Linked DNA regions of Homo sapiens: region 1 is linked to region 2. Evidence: fine-mapped expression QTL. Tissue or cell type: atrial appendage. Region 2 holds a variant in brackets; the other region holds the start of a gene. All regions are shown on one strand. Distances are from middle to middle.

What was found. PIP is the estimated chance that this variant, and not a neighbour inherited with it, causes the effect.
Region 1: TDRD9 starts here. The variant in region 2 is fine-mapped to the expression of TDRD9 in atrial appendage (GTEx, PIP above 0.99).

What each region holds. Positions count from the first base shown.
Region 1 is chr14:103,926,959-103,929,583 of GRCh38, reverse strand. It overlaps TDRD9 (tudor domain containing 9), which reads right to left and starts at 1,128. Exons shown (of 36, transcript NM_153046.3): 1 at 860-1,128. The coding sequence starts at 1,074.
Region 2 is chr14:104,039,494-104,042,253 of GRCh38, reverse strand. TDRD9 (tudor domain containing 9) reads right to left here. Exons shown (of 36, transcript NM_153046.3): 33 at 1,920-2,058; 34 at 67-185. Among named protein-coding and RNA genes, the nearest start is that of ASPG, 45 kb to the left of the region's middle. The variant C/T (reference allele first, on the strand shown) is at 1,308.

The DNA of each region.
Region 1 (2,625 bases), 110 kb after region 2:
GGCGCCACTCCACTCCAGCCTGGGTAACAAAGTGAGACTCCATCTCGGGGGGTGGGGGGAGAACTTGGAAGCAACCAAGCTCTCCTTCAGTAGGTGAATGGAGATAAACTGTGGTACATCCAGACAGTGGAATATTAATCAGTGCTAAAAGGAAAGAAGCTATCAAACCATGGAAAGGCATGGAGGAACCCCCAAATGCATACTAATACTAAGTGACAGAAACCCATCAAAAAGGCTACACATACTGTGTGATTCCAACTAGATGACAGTATGGAAAAGCAAAATTATGGAGACAGTAAAAAAATCAGTGGTTTCCACGTGGTGTAGGGAAAGGGAGGCAGGAACAGTGGGGCCGAGAAGATCTGTAGGTCAGTGAACTCTGTAATGCGTGACGTTAGGCGTTTGTCCAAACCCACAGAACGTCCAGTACGAGGCGTGAACCCTCCTGTAACGATGGCCTCCGGGTGACGAAGACGCAGCGATGCAGGTTCGCCGACTGTCACAAATACCCACACCTTACGCAGATGCTCACAGGGGAAACTCTGGGAGGGAAGGGGCCTATGGGACCTCTGCCCTCCGCTCCGTTATCCTGAAAACCTGAGTGCCTCAAAAACTAGTCTGTTAAACATTAAGAACTGAAAAAAAAAAAAAAAAAAAAACCTCTAGCTCAGCTTCCTTACAGGCACCGCTCTGGGCCGCGCGTCGGGTTGTGTAGTGACCACTCGCCCTGGACGGTCAGGGGTCCCTGGAGCCCCGCGAGAGGGCACGGGCTCGCGAGAAGGATCTGGATGGCCCGTGCCCTCGTCGCCAGGCCTCGCCCGGCCGCCCTCCAGCCGCCTCCGCCCCGCCCGCGTCCTACCTTTCGAACGCAGCGGCCGGCCGGGCCGGAGCTTGGGCCAGAGCCGGAGCCTGGGCCGCGGGACCAGCGCCGGGGGCCACGTCCTGGCGCTGCACCTCCTCCCTGGCCGCCCCTGCCGGGAAGGCGGGCGGCGCGCCCAGCAGCTCCACATTGGTCACCGTCTTGCCGATGGTGAACCAGTCGTTGATCTGCTCGATGGTGAGCTTCCGCAGCATCCTCAAGGCCCAGGCGTCGGCATCCCCCAACTGCCGGGTCTCCGCGGCGGGAACAGGCGACGGCGGAAGCGCACCCTGGAAGCCCCGCCCCCGCTCGAGGCCTTCCAATCAGAACGCGCCGCGCGCCCTTGTGGGCGGGCTCCGGCCCGGGCGCGTGCTGCCCGCGCTGCCTGGTCCTCGTGCCGCCGGCCCCGCCCCGCCGCGCTAGGCCTGCCGGGAGCCGCCGCCCCGAGCGAGCCCAGGGTGAGCCTTTCTAGGACCTCAGGGGAAGCTTGAGCGCCGCGGCTGGCCCGGGAGTCTGTTTCACGGGAGTTCCGTGGCAACCCCTGTGTGTACAAGAAAATGCCCTCCGGTCACTCCCTGGCCTCTCTATTTAGAGGCTGCTGCCTCGGAGGTTTGTGCGCTTTGAGCGGACCGGGACCCTACATACGTTTCTTGAGCACCTCAGGGTGAGGAGATGGAAGGCAAACCAGAGAAGGGATTTGCGTTCGTGGGTCAGACGTACCAGGACATCCTTGCACCTAATATGGGGGGAGAGGGGCAAGAAGAAGGTCAGGAAGGTCTCGGAGAAAGTAACGCCAGGCAGACCCCTGCAGGATACGGGGGAATGCGCCAGACGGAGGACCACCCAGGGTTATAGGGGAGGGCAGGCGGCCCTGATGGCTGAGGTGAGGATCTGGGAGAAGTTCTTTGCAGCCGGATCATAACTGAATTCATCTTCCTTCCTAAACCGGTGTCTCAGGCGGCGGTGTCAGACTCACAGCTGGACACAAACAGGTGCGGACAGGAGGTCCAGGCGATCACATGGACCAAAGATACAGGCTGAGGTGGTCCCGGCCGAGCTCTAGAAGAGTGAGGGTGGAGAACAGAGCCCTAGCAAACTCCCCAAAAGAAGGAGCCGCGGGAAGAAATCAACAAAGGATGCACGGGAAGGCAGCCACGTGTGCAAGGGAAGGGAGGGTCAGAAGAGAGACATGGCCACCTGCCTGGGGTGTGTCCCCCTCACTGGCCAGGGCAGGATCTATCTGGCCCATGTGGGCTCTCAGGAAAGAGCCATGTGAACAAATACAGAGACGGTATCGAGAGCATGGCTCTAATCAGCAGTGTAAAGCCCAAGCAGTGGCAAATAAGAGGGCGGTTTGAAAACACTGTAGACAGAAATCAGGCAGGTAGGTTGAGCTATTGGTGTCTCAAAAATTGAACCCATAATCATACTAAGCCAGGAGTTCTGGCTCCAAATCCTGGCATAATGAGCTCTAGACCTCATATTAGGACTCTGCCAAATACGACAGGTTCCCAAAAGTGCCTCAACACACTTTGCCAGGAAGAAATAACTTGCTTTTCTTTTTTCTTTTGAGGCAGGGTCTCACTCCTGTCGCTGAGGCTGGAGTGCCGTGCTGCAATCAGGGCTCACTGCAGCCTCAACTTCGGGGGCTCAGGTGATGCTCCCACCACAACCTCCTGCATAGCTGGAACTACAGGCTCACGCCACCACCACACCGGCTAATTTTTTATATTTTTAGTACAGACAGGGGTTTCGCTGTGTTGCCC
Region 2 (2,760 bases):
CCATGATCAAGGCAGCTGAGAAAGTTGACTGGGAAGAAAAGAAGCCCGCGTCATCACACAGCTTACCCTAAAAGCTTCTGACGGGCAATGTCTTGAAGCTGCGCAACTCTCTCTGGCCCAAGACACTTGCATCCATTTGGTCCATCACAGACTAGCTTGTTAATAGCAGCCCTGAGAATATTAACCTGTAAATGAACAGCAACATAAACACTCATAAGGCTCCGTCGTAACTGAATTTCATCCCGTTAGAGAATTCATAGCATTCAGAGTTAGTATTCTCTGTCATCAGTATGGTTTATCCACTCGCCTGCTGAAGGCATCTTGACTGCTCCCAGTTTTTAGCAATTATGACTCAAGCTGCAATTGATATTCACATACAAGCTCTATGTGGATGCTAGTTTTCAAATCTCTTGAATAAATACCTACAGATGGGATTCCTGGGTCATATGGTAGATGCAGGCTTAACTTCATATGAAACTGTCTTCTAAAATAGTGGTACTAATCTGCATTCCCACCAGCAATGAACAAAAGGTCCCCGGTCCCCCTGCACCACCTCCTTGCCATTGCTGGTTACTGTCAGGTTTTGGATTTCAGCCATTCCAGTAAGTAGGTGGTGCTATCTCATGGAAGTCTCAATTTGCATTTTCCTAATGACATATGATGCTGAGCATCTTTTCATGGGTTTACTGTCATCCGTATTTTAATTCTGTTGCTTGTTTTCTTATAATTGAGTTTTAAGAGTGCCTTACATATTGTGGATACAAGTCCTTCATCAGATATGTAACCTGTAACTATTTTCTCCTGGTGTGCACTTTGTCTTTTCTTCCTCTGAAGAGGGTCTTTTGCGGAACAAAAGTTTTTAATTTTGATAAATTCAAACGTATCAATTTCCCCTTCACAGATTGTGCTTTGGGTGTTGTATTTATAAACTCATGCCACACCCAAAGTCACACAGATTTCCTGAATTTGCTTGTAGCACTTTAATAGTTTTACATTTTCCCATTAGGTCTATGGCTTAAGGAGTATTTTCAAGCCCATAAGCCCCTTCTTGTGACCAGGCAATTATGACTTAACAGTTGCAGAGACAACACTGATACCTGCCCCCGGAGCATCGGCAGCTGTCTCTGCAGCTCCTCCTTTCCCCCGGCCCTTCAGTGTGGTTATGTTAACCTCACCCGTCTCATGGAACTTCTAAGAAAGAAAGGCGACTGAGTACTTAGAAAGTAGCATTTCTCAAACTATTTGTGGTAAAGGATCAGTTTTGGTCTTCCCACTTTGTAAAATGCAATAAAAATAAATTACTATAA[C/T]GATGAAAGATCTTTTTTAATGTACACAAATACGAGCCCACATTTCTATTATTAGATTCAAATGACATACAAATACTTTGTGTACTTGCTACACAGTTTCCCTGTCTGCCTTGCCACCTCACCCCAGAGCTAGTGCGGTGCCCAGACAATGCTGCAAGCAGCTCAGCTCTGCACTCACGCTGACCCAGCCCTCTGCTCAGCATGGTCACCAGGCCGGGAGAAGGGCAGAGGGGCAGGACCTTGTGTCCTCCTTTCCCAGTAAGAACTAGCAAGGATGTTCCACTTCCTGACTTGGAATGAGACCCACAGCAGCCCTACAGCCCCGTGGTTTAGCTGATTGCCCAGAAAAGCTTATGCCAGGAGACACCAAATGAGAGACTCAGAGAGCACCATCAGGAAGTTACTTTTCACAGGAAAGATACATCAAACTGGCAAGTTAAGGAGCGGTCCTCCTGGAGGGTGACTCCAGGAGGGACAAGGAACGTGCACATCTCCAGGACCAGAGGTGTGTGTCTGCACCGCGAGCTCCACAGCAGACCCTGCACTCACTGTCAGGTAAGCAAAACCAGAGAGAGACAGGGTTGTGGTGCCGTGATGCTGCACTACCCTTACCTCGACGACATCCTCCACGCTGAATTGAACGTCAAACGCAAGCTCCATGTCGTGCTCGGGCAGTATGGAAGCCCCTGTAGCTGGATTCCACCCCAAACCACAAAGGACTCCAGTATAGTACTTGCCATTCTGATCAATCCTAAATGGAATGTTTTCAGAAGAGTCCATTATTTCAGAATTGTTAAAGTATATGTTTTAGCATGTAAAAATTGACCGATAAAATTATCCTAAATTCTGCCAGCCCTAGTACAGCAATTAATTTCACTTGTGCATTTTTCTGCCAGTTTTCACAATCAAAATATAGTTATAAAATATAGTTATAAGAATAGTAAATTCAGTATTTTTATTAATACTTAATAATTTGTATTAATACTTTATTAAGTTTCTAATGTGGTAGATAAGATAATGAAAAGAATATTTTATCATGAATGGGTTTTTTTTTCCCTTGCCTTCGAATTCTTTCCATGGGTTAAATTCTTATTAGGGAGATTTCTGGAGAAAGGGCTATGTACATATTTATGACCTGTCAAACAAGTCTAGCACTTAGTAAAAGCCTAAAAAAATGTTCCACCTTCTCATCCTAAAACAATGGTGCACACTTACAAAGTTTTGTATCCCAGTTTTATCACCACCCTCCTCTGACCACTGGCACGTCCTGTCACCTTTATCACTCCCTAATAGCCTCTCCATGGCTGCGGCCAACAGCCTGGTCCAAGCCACTGCCATTTCTCACCTGGACTTGGTAACAACTTTCCGACCAATTCCCCATCTCTTACTCCTGCCTCTTCCAATCTTTTCTCCATATAGCACACAGGAGTAGCTTTTCAAAACAAATACAATG